3 separate regions of the Homo sapiens genome follow, and all the other regions are linked to region 3. The links come from fine-mapping of genetic effects on gene expression. A gene starts in region 3. Each other region holds a variant in brackets. All regions are shown on one strand. Distances are from middle to middle. Region 1 overlaps GALC (galactosylceramidase). Region 2 has its middle 67 kb from the start of LINC01147. Region 3 holds the start of HISLA (HIF1A stabilizing long noncoding RNA).

Region 1 (2,769 bases), 65 kb before region 3:
TAATCTACTGTAATTCGGTTAGTTTAAATCTGAAGTGAGTCCAATAAGTTAAGATGTATATGGTAAGCCCCAGAATAATCACTAAAAAAAACTCACAAAAATATAGTGAATAATTAATATTGTTAACACAGCCATATTACCCAAAGCAATCTACAGATTTAATGCAATCTGTATCAAAATGCCAAGGACATTCTTCACATAAATAGAAAACACAACCATAAAATTTATATAGGAACACAAAAGACCACAAACAGTCAATGCAACCCTGAGCAAAAAGAACAAAGCTGAAGGCATCACACTACCTGACTTCAACATATACTAAAAGGCTATAGTAACGATTAATAAAACAGCATGGTTTTGTCTAAAAGCAGGCACACAGACCAATGGAACAGAATAGAAAGTCCAGAAATAAATTCATGCCCTATGACCAACTAATTTTCAACAAAGGTGCCAAGAACACGCTAGGAAAAAGGACAGTCTCTTCCATAAACAGCACTGGGAAAAATGGATAGCCCCATGCAGAAGAACGAAACTGGACTCCTGTCTCTCACAATATACACAGTCAACTCAAAATTGATTACATACTTAAATATAAAACCTGAAACTATAAAACTAGAAAAAAAACAAAGGGAAAGTGCTTTATGACAATGAGCTGGGCAAGAATTTTTTAAATAAGACCTCAAAAGCACAGACAACGCAAAAATAGACAAAGGGGATGACATCAGACTGAAAAGCTTTTGCACAGCAAAAGAAACAAAGTAAAACAGCCTACAAAATGGGAGGAAATATTTGCAAATTATACATGAGACAAGGGGTTAATATCTAGACTATGTAAAGAACTTAAACAACGACAACAAAATAGCCCAGTTTAAAATTGGGCAAAAGACTGTAATAGACATTTCTCAGAAGAAGACATACAAATGGCCAATGGGTACATGAAAAAATACTCAACATCACTAATCATCAGGGAAATGCAAATCAAAACCACAATGGGATATCACTTCCCTCTACTTAGAATGGCTATTACCAAAAAAACAAAAGAAAACAAGTGTTGGTGAGGATGTGGAAAAAAAGAAATACTTACTTCATGTTGTTAGGGTTGTAAATTGGTACAGCCACTATAAAAAACAGTGTGGAGATTCCTAAAAAATTAAAAATAGGCGGGGCACGTGGTGGCTCACGCCCATAATCCCAGCATTTTGGGAGGCTGAGGCGGGCAGATCACTTGAGGTCAGGAGTTTGAGACCAGCCTGGCCAACACGGTGAAACCCCGTCTCTACTAAAAATACAAAAATGAGCCAGGTGTGGTGGCAGACGCCTGTAATCCCAGCCACTTGGGAGGCTGAGGCAGAAGAATCACTTGAACCCAGGAGGCAGAGGTTGCAGTGAGCCAAGATTGCACCACTGTACTCCAGCCTGGAAGTGCAGAGTAAGATTCTGCCTCAAAAAAAAAAAAAAAAATTAAAAGTAGAACTACCATATGATCCAGTAATCCCACTACTGTGTATATATCCCCCCAAAATAAAATATATA[T/C]GTTAAAGAGGTATCTGCACTCCCATGTTTATTAAAACACTATTTACAATAGCCAAGATATGGAATCAACCTGAGTGTTCAACAATGAATGCATGAATAAAGAAAATGTGATATATATATACACAATGGAGTACTATTAGTCATAGAATGAAATCCTGATATTTGCAACAAATGGAGGAATATGGAGGATATGATGTTAAGTGAAATAAGCCAGACACAATAAGACAAATACCTCATGATCACACTTACATGTAGAATTAAAAAAAAAGAAGAGTTGATATCACAGATGCAGAAAGTAGAACAGTGGTTACCAGACACTGGGGTGGGGCTGGGAAGGGAAGGACAGGAAGAGGTCGGTCAACGGGTACAAAGTAACTATTGGACAGGAGGTGTAAGTTGATATCACAGATGCAGAGAGTAGAACAGTGGTTACCAGACACTAGGGTGGGGCTGGGAAGGGAAGGACAGGAAGAGGTCGGTCAACAGGTACAAAGTAACTATTGGACAGGAGGTGTAAGTTCTGGTGTTTTCTTGCACACTAGGGTGAAGACGGTTAACAGTAAGGTTTTGTGTATTACAAAACAGCTAGAAGAGAGGCTTTTGAATGCTTTCATCACAAAGGAATGATAAATTCATGAGGTGATGGGCATACCCTGATTTGACCATTATACCACATGTATGTATCAAAACATCAAATTGTACCCTGTGTCAATAAAAAATAAAAATATGACAAAGTTGAAATACTCACATTTCCTCACTTCAAAATTTATCAGACAGCTACAGTACCTAAGACAGTGTGGTGCTCACGTCAGGACAGATATATAAGTCAACAGAAAAAAATTGAGGTTCTAGAAATAAACCCTCAAATTTATTGCCAATTGATTTTCAACAAGGATGCCAAGACAATTCAATGAAAAAGGAATAGTCTTTTCAAAAAATAGTGCAGGGACAACTGGATATTAAAATGCAAGAGAATCAAGTTGGACACACATATAACCCCAGTTAAGAAAGAAAATGGACCAAAAACCTAAATTTAAGATTTAAAACTCTAAAACTCTTAAAGGAATACATAAATATAAATCTTCAGAACCTTGAATTAGGCAATAGCTTCTTAGATATGACACCAAAAGCACAAGAAACAAAAGAGAAAACAAAGTGGGCTTCATCACAATTTAAAACTTTTTTTAATTCAAAGGGTACCATTAAGAAAATGAAAGACAACCCATACAAAGGGAG
Region 2 (2,769 bases), 69 kb after region 3:
GACCTGGTGGGAGATAATTGAACCATGGGGGCAGGTCTTTCTCATGCTGTTCTCATGAGAGTGAATAAGTCTCATGAAACCTGATGGTTTTATAAGGGGGAATTTCCCTGCACAAGCTCTCTCTCTGCCTTTTGCCATCCATGTAAGACGTGACTTGGTCCTCCTTGCCTTCTACCATGATTATGAGGCCTCCCCAGCCACGTGGAACTGTGAGTCCATTAAACCTCTTTCTTTTGTAAATTTCCCAGTCTCAGGTATGTCTTTATCAGCAGCATGAAAACAGACTAACACAATTACATTTCCCAGCTATCCCCTTGCACTGAGATGAGCCATGTTACTAATCCTGACAAATGGGATGTGAGTTTAAATTACATGTGAAACCTCTGGGTTTCACAAGAGGAATCTGAACCCCTGCAAAGAAAGAGACCCCAAACAGTCCTGGATCATTATGTGACAGAGAGAATCACTTCTATCTTGTGTTTTAAAATACTGTTATGTTTAATCTCTGTCATGGCAGTAAAACCTATATTGGAACAAGTCCCTAAGGCTGCCTAGGTGAAAGGCGATGGTCTGAGGCAGGAACAGGGTGAATGAATTAATGGAGATAATAGATCTGAGAATAGTTGTTGGACTTATTGACAGGATGTAGGAAACAAGAGAGAAGAAGGTGTTAATTGCACCCTCCCGCCCCATATGCTTTCACTCCAAGACTGGGTAAATGGATGGTGAAGTCATCAATGAAAAAAGGAGGATGTGGGAGAAGTAAGATTACTTCCAAACATTTTAGAGGAGTTGGAAGTTTGCTGGGAAAAACCTGTTTTCAGTTCATTTGTTCATCAATTCAAAAGAATTTTACTGACCTCTTACTATGTGTAAGGAACAAAGGATTTTTTTACAAAAAAAAAAATGTTCATTAGCAATAGCGTAGGTTTTTATTACAAAAACAATAAAGATGGGAACCTCAGCTGTAAAAGTAGTAAAAATACAGAACTCTGTAGATTATGCACAGATTTGTCAGGCCCTTCATTGCTTGAGCTGTTTACAGATCATCTAACATCTCACTTAGTGTTGTCTCAGGTTTGCACAAGCAGCCAGCCTGGACAAGGGAAGTGTGTGAGGCACACTTTTAGCTTTAAGATTTTATAAAAG[T/C]CCACCTGTTTGGAGCTGAGGTTCATATAAGAAAGAGAAGGCCCCTACAGTGAGAAGAATTTCACATAGCCACTCATGTAGTTGTACTGTAATCCCAAATATCCTTAGGAGAGTCATTCCAAATAAACATATGTACATGTACATTCAGGGCAAAGAGTATGTGTATGTACATTCCATACACTTCAAAACACAGTCCTGTTTAAATCATCTCTGCACATTTTCATAGCAGACTTTCTTTTTGCCCATTTATCCTCCTACATAAGCAGTTTAAATAATCACCCTACATGATATTCTGAACTTCCTGAGTAGAATAGTTTGTCTCATATTGACTAAAAATTCAAAGTATGTCTATATATCAGGAAAGTCATTTAACATTCATGTTAACAGTCACAAATGTTAGGCCGCTTCAAACATATCCTACCATAGATTTCTTAAACATAAAATATATATGAAGGAAATCAAACTACTTCACTCTCAGTTTTTTAACAAATGGTCTGGGATCATGTTAACTCCTTTGATCTCTGCTTCCTGCAGGGTGGTCTGCTGCTGATCAAATGAAAGTATTCCCCAGCTAAGTCAGACAACAGGAAAGCATTCATTTAATTAACAGGCATTCAATGCAATTCAATGGGTTATTTCTTAAACACCTACTATGTGTCAAATCCTGTCCTGTGCCTAAGTGGATGCAAAGGTAAGTAAGATTTAACATGGCTCTGACGCAGGTTCATCGAAGAGCCCTAGGACCCTGAAGGGAAAGGTTAATTTCTTGTGATTGTGATGAAAGGAAAAAACACTTCCTAAAGATTCCTACGTAAGAGCTAAACTTAGAAAGAAAGAAGGGTGGGAGTGAGGTCTCAGAAGAAACAACTGACACCTTGATCTCAGACTTCTAACTTCCAGAACATTGAGAAAATATATTTCTAATGTTTAAACCATCCAGTCTGTGCTACTTTGTCATGGCAGCCTAGCAAACTAAGACAAGGCATAACTCTCCAACATTTGTAAAGGAGTGTCAAATACGTCACTGTTGATCTTCACATTAACCCTGCAAGGTATATATTATTATGCGCATTTAAGGAAACTGAGGCTCATCAGATAAGTAACTTGCCCAAAATCACACATCTACAAGTAGCAGAAAGATACATAGAGAACTGGGAGCATACTGCACATATTTTTATCTGCCATTTTTAACTCAGTTGTTTTATCATGGACATTTCCCATATCACTGAAAATCAAAGTATGTCAGTTTAGGTTTGCTTATCTCAACTTTGAATAAGCTGCCTAGGAAATCTATGTAACAGAGGAACATCTTGAAAACTAACATTGGAAAAAATAAAAATGAAACATAACTTGTTAAAACCAGCAAGGAATTTAGTGATCACCCAAGAAGGCCAAACACTATGACAGGTGACAACAAGGCTATGGCACATCCTGGGTCCTAGAAAGGCTGTCCTAGTTCATGTGAATATTCTGGGAAGGACTTTCTCATCCTCCTTGACCCCAAGAACTATGGAGGGCTGAACAGGCAGGTTGATCCCTCTCTAGCTCTGGGTCTCATAGAGCAAAGAGGATGATGCTATTAGGGTTCACCTCACAGTGTATTAAAGGAGGGAAAGACTT
Region 3 (2,737 bases):
TCCACCTTTTGCTATTTTATTTTGGCTTTTATATGATGTCAAAGATGGTTAACAGCATCTCCAGGCCCAGGTTCCACAGATTAGAAAATCCAGCGGGAAGAGAGCCTCTTTCTTGGTATCTCTGGAAAATGTAAAGGTTCCCCTGCCCTTGTTCCTTCCCATCTTTAAACTGATCACTGTGGTTAGGGGTGTATAGTTTTCTCATAAGCCAGGGCAGGGCCCCATGCCTGCCCTGGAGAGTAGGGTCGGTCCCACCATAATAACAGAGACTGTAAGGAGAAGAGAGGATCGTTTCTCAAGGGAAAATCAGGATGCTGTTACCAAACAAAGGAGAGAAAAGAGTCTGTTTCTATGACTACATCTTTCTGGGCTGTGTGGTCCAAACACACCTGTGACACCAGACATGTCCCCTACATTATTTTCCATTGAAAACGATGTTTATTTCCTTTTATACATGGTGAGAAATTGAGTTTCTTTGCATAGAGAATAGACTCCTTCAGAAATATTCATTCTGGAAGGTAATGTCAGGAAGGATCCTGGCAGGCAATGGAGAGATCACTCAAATTCAGGTATTCTGAGGAAAGTTTAGTAAAGAGATATTTACAAAGGATGGGCAGGGTACAAGGAAGCCACAAGGATGATGCGTGAACTGGGGATAAGAACATCTGGGCACCCTGAGGCCCCTGGCTCTGAGAGGGCAAGCAGAGGGGGTGGTTACCAAAGCTGGAGGCACAGAAGTCTGTCTGCAGACCCCCAGGCATAGCCAGCCTATGGCCAGGCATTAAAATGAGAACTAGGGAAAGAAACAAAAATCCATACCTGCTTCTCCTCCCTCCCTCCAACTTGCTGCAGGAATTCCCTATTGAATGAACCACCAGGAAGCCAGTGAGAAATCTCTTTGTTGTAGGTCCTAAGATCAGCCTCCCAGGGCACAACGGAAGAAGGACAAAAAGTGGGAGCAGAGAAACAAACAGGAAGTCAGTTTCTTATCTATTTTTACACTCTATTCATGGGCTCATTCAGGGAAATACCCATAAGATGTCTAAACACATGCCCTGGTCTGATTTCCAGTGGCATTGACTGCTAAACATGTATGTTAAAAATGGCCTGTGTAAACATCAAAATACATGAGACGGTGAACATATCTAACAGCAGTATCAGTGTGGTCCCTTGAGGCTTCCTCTTGATTTGGAGGCATGAGGTTTGTTTGAACTTTTGTTCTTTCATTTACAGGCTACGTGACCTTTAACAAATGAGATAACCTCTCAGAGACTGTGTCCTTGTCTTTAATAGGAGGATATTTCCCCTGCCCACCTAATGGTATCTGTTATTCAGTGCAAATGAAATATTGGATATAAAAGTATTTGAGAGTGATAAAGTACTAATGTTATATTGATCTTTTCAACCTTAAAATATGAGCATAAGAAATACAGATTAATATTTTTATGGGTATGATTTTTTGCAATGTTTATTTCAGAGTTCTACGTGGGGAAAAGAAAGAGAGATCAGACTGTTACTGTGTCTATGTAGAAAGAAGTAGACATAAGAGACTCCATTTTGTTCTGTACTAAGAGAAATTCTTCTGCCTTGAGATGCTGTTAATCTGTAACCCTAGCCCCAACCCTGTGTTTGCAGAGACATGTGCTGTGTTGACTCAAGGTTTAATGGATTTAGGGCTGTGCAGAATGTGCTTTGTTAAACAAGTGCTTGAAGGCAGTATGCTTGGTAAAAGTCATCGCCATTCTCTAATCTTGAGTACCCAGGGACACGATACACTGCGGAAGGCTGCAGGGACCTCTGCCCAGGAAAGCCAGGTATTGTCCAAGGTTTCTCCCCATGTGATAGCCTGAGATATGGCCTTGTGGGAAGGGAAAGACCTGACCGTCCCCCAGCCAGACACCCGTAAAGGGTCTGTGCTGAGGAGGATTAGTGAAAGAGGAAGGCCTCTTTGCAGTTGAGATAAGAGGAAGGCATCTGTCTCCTGCTTATCCCTGGGAATGAAATGTCTCAATGTCAAACCCGATTATACGTTCTATTTACTGAGATAGGAGGAAACCGCCTTATGGCTGGAGGTGAGATATGCTGGCGGCAATACTGCTCTTTAATGCACCGAGATGTTTGTGTACATGCACATCAAGGCACAGCACCTTTCCTTAAACTTATTTATGACACAGAGACCTTTGCTCACATGTTTTCCTGCTGACCCTCTCCCCACTGTTACCCTATTGTCCTGCCACATCCCCCTCTCCGAGATGGTAGAGATAGTGATCAATTAATACTGAGGAAACTCAAGAGACCAGGGCTGGCGCCCGTCCTCCGTATGCTGAGTGCCGGTCCCCTGGGCCCACTGTTCTTTCTCCATACTTTATCTCTGTGTCTTATTTCTTTTCTCAGTCTCTTGTCCCACCTGACGAAAAACACCCACAGGTGTGGAGGGGCTGGTCCCCTTCAGTTCTAAAGCCCACTTGGCTCATTCCACATGTGGCAGTATTTTTTTACCATGTGAACACCAAAATGAATTCGTGGCAAATGCACCTCCCGTTTATTGCAGGCTTGCATGAAGGAAATGATTTCCTATGATTCTGCTTACTGCTTAAAAAAATTAATCAAGTTTTCTGCCTGACAAGTAAGTAACTGTGTTTATTTTCTGTTCATGACTAGGCAAAAGCACATAACATCCCTATGTGTCCAGTGAGTTATGAAAGTTCTTTAAAAGCAGTGCATTAGCCATGGATCT

Evidence for each region.
Region 1: its variant is fine-mapped to the expression of HISLA in whole blood (TOPMed, PIP 0.98).
Region 2: its variant is fine-mapped to the expression of HISLA in blood mononuclear cells (TOPMed, PIP 0.93).

Annotation. Positions count from the first base shown.
Region 1 is chr14:87,958,277-87,961,045 of GRCh38, forward strand. All of the region lies in intron 10 of GALC (galactosylceramidase), which reads right to left. Among named protein-coding and RNA genes, the nearest start is that of GALC, 34 kb to the right of the region's middle. The variant T/C (reference allele first, on the strand shown) is at 1,534.
Region 2 is chr14:88,091,444-88,094,212 of GRCh38, forward strand. No RefSeq gene overlaps it. Among named protein-coding and RNA genes, the nearest start is that of LINC01147, 67 kb to the left of the region's middle. The variant T/C (reference allele first, on the strand shown) is at 1,150.
Region 3 is chr14:88,022,856-88,025,592 of GRCh38, forward strand. HISLA (HIF1A stabilizing long noncoding RNA) reads left to right here and starts at 1,695. Exons shown (of 4, transcript NR_046094.1): 1 at 1,695-1,814; 2 at 2,552-2,626. It overlaps LINC01147 (long intergenic non-protein coding RNA 1147), which reads right to left. Exons shown (of 3, transcript NR_110121.1): 2 at 820-921.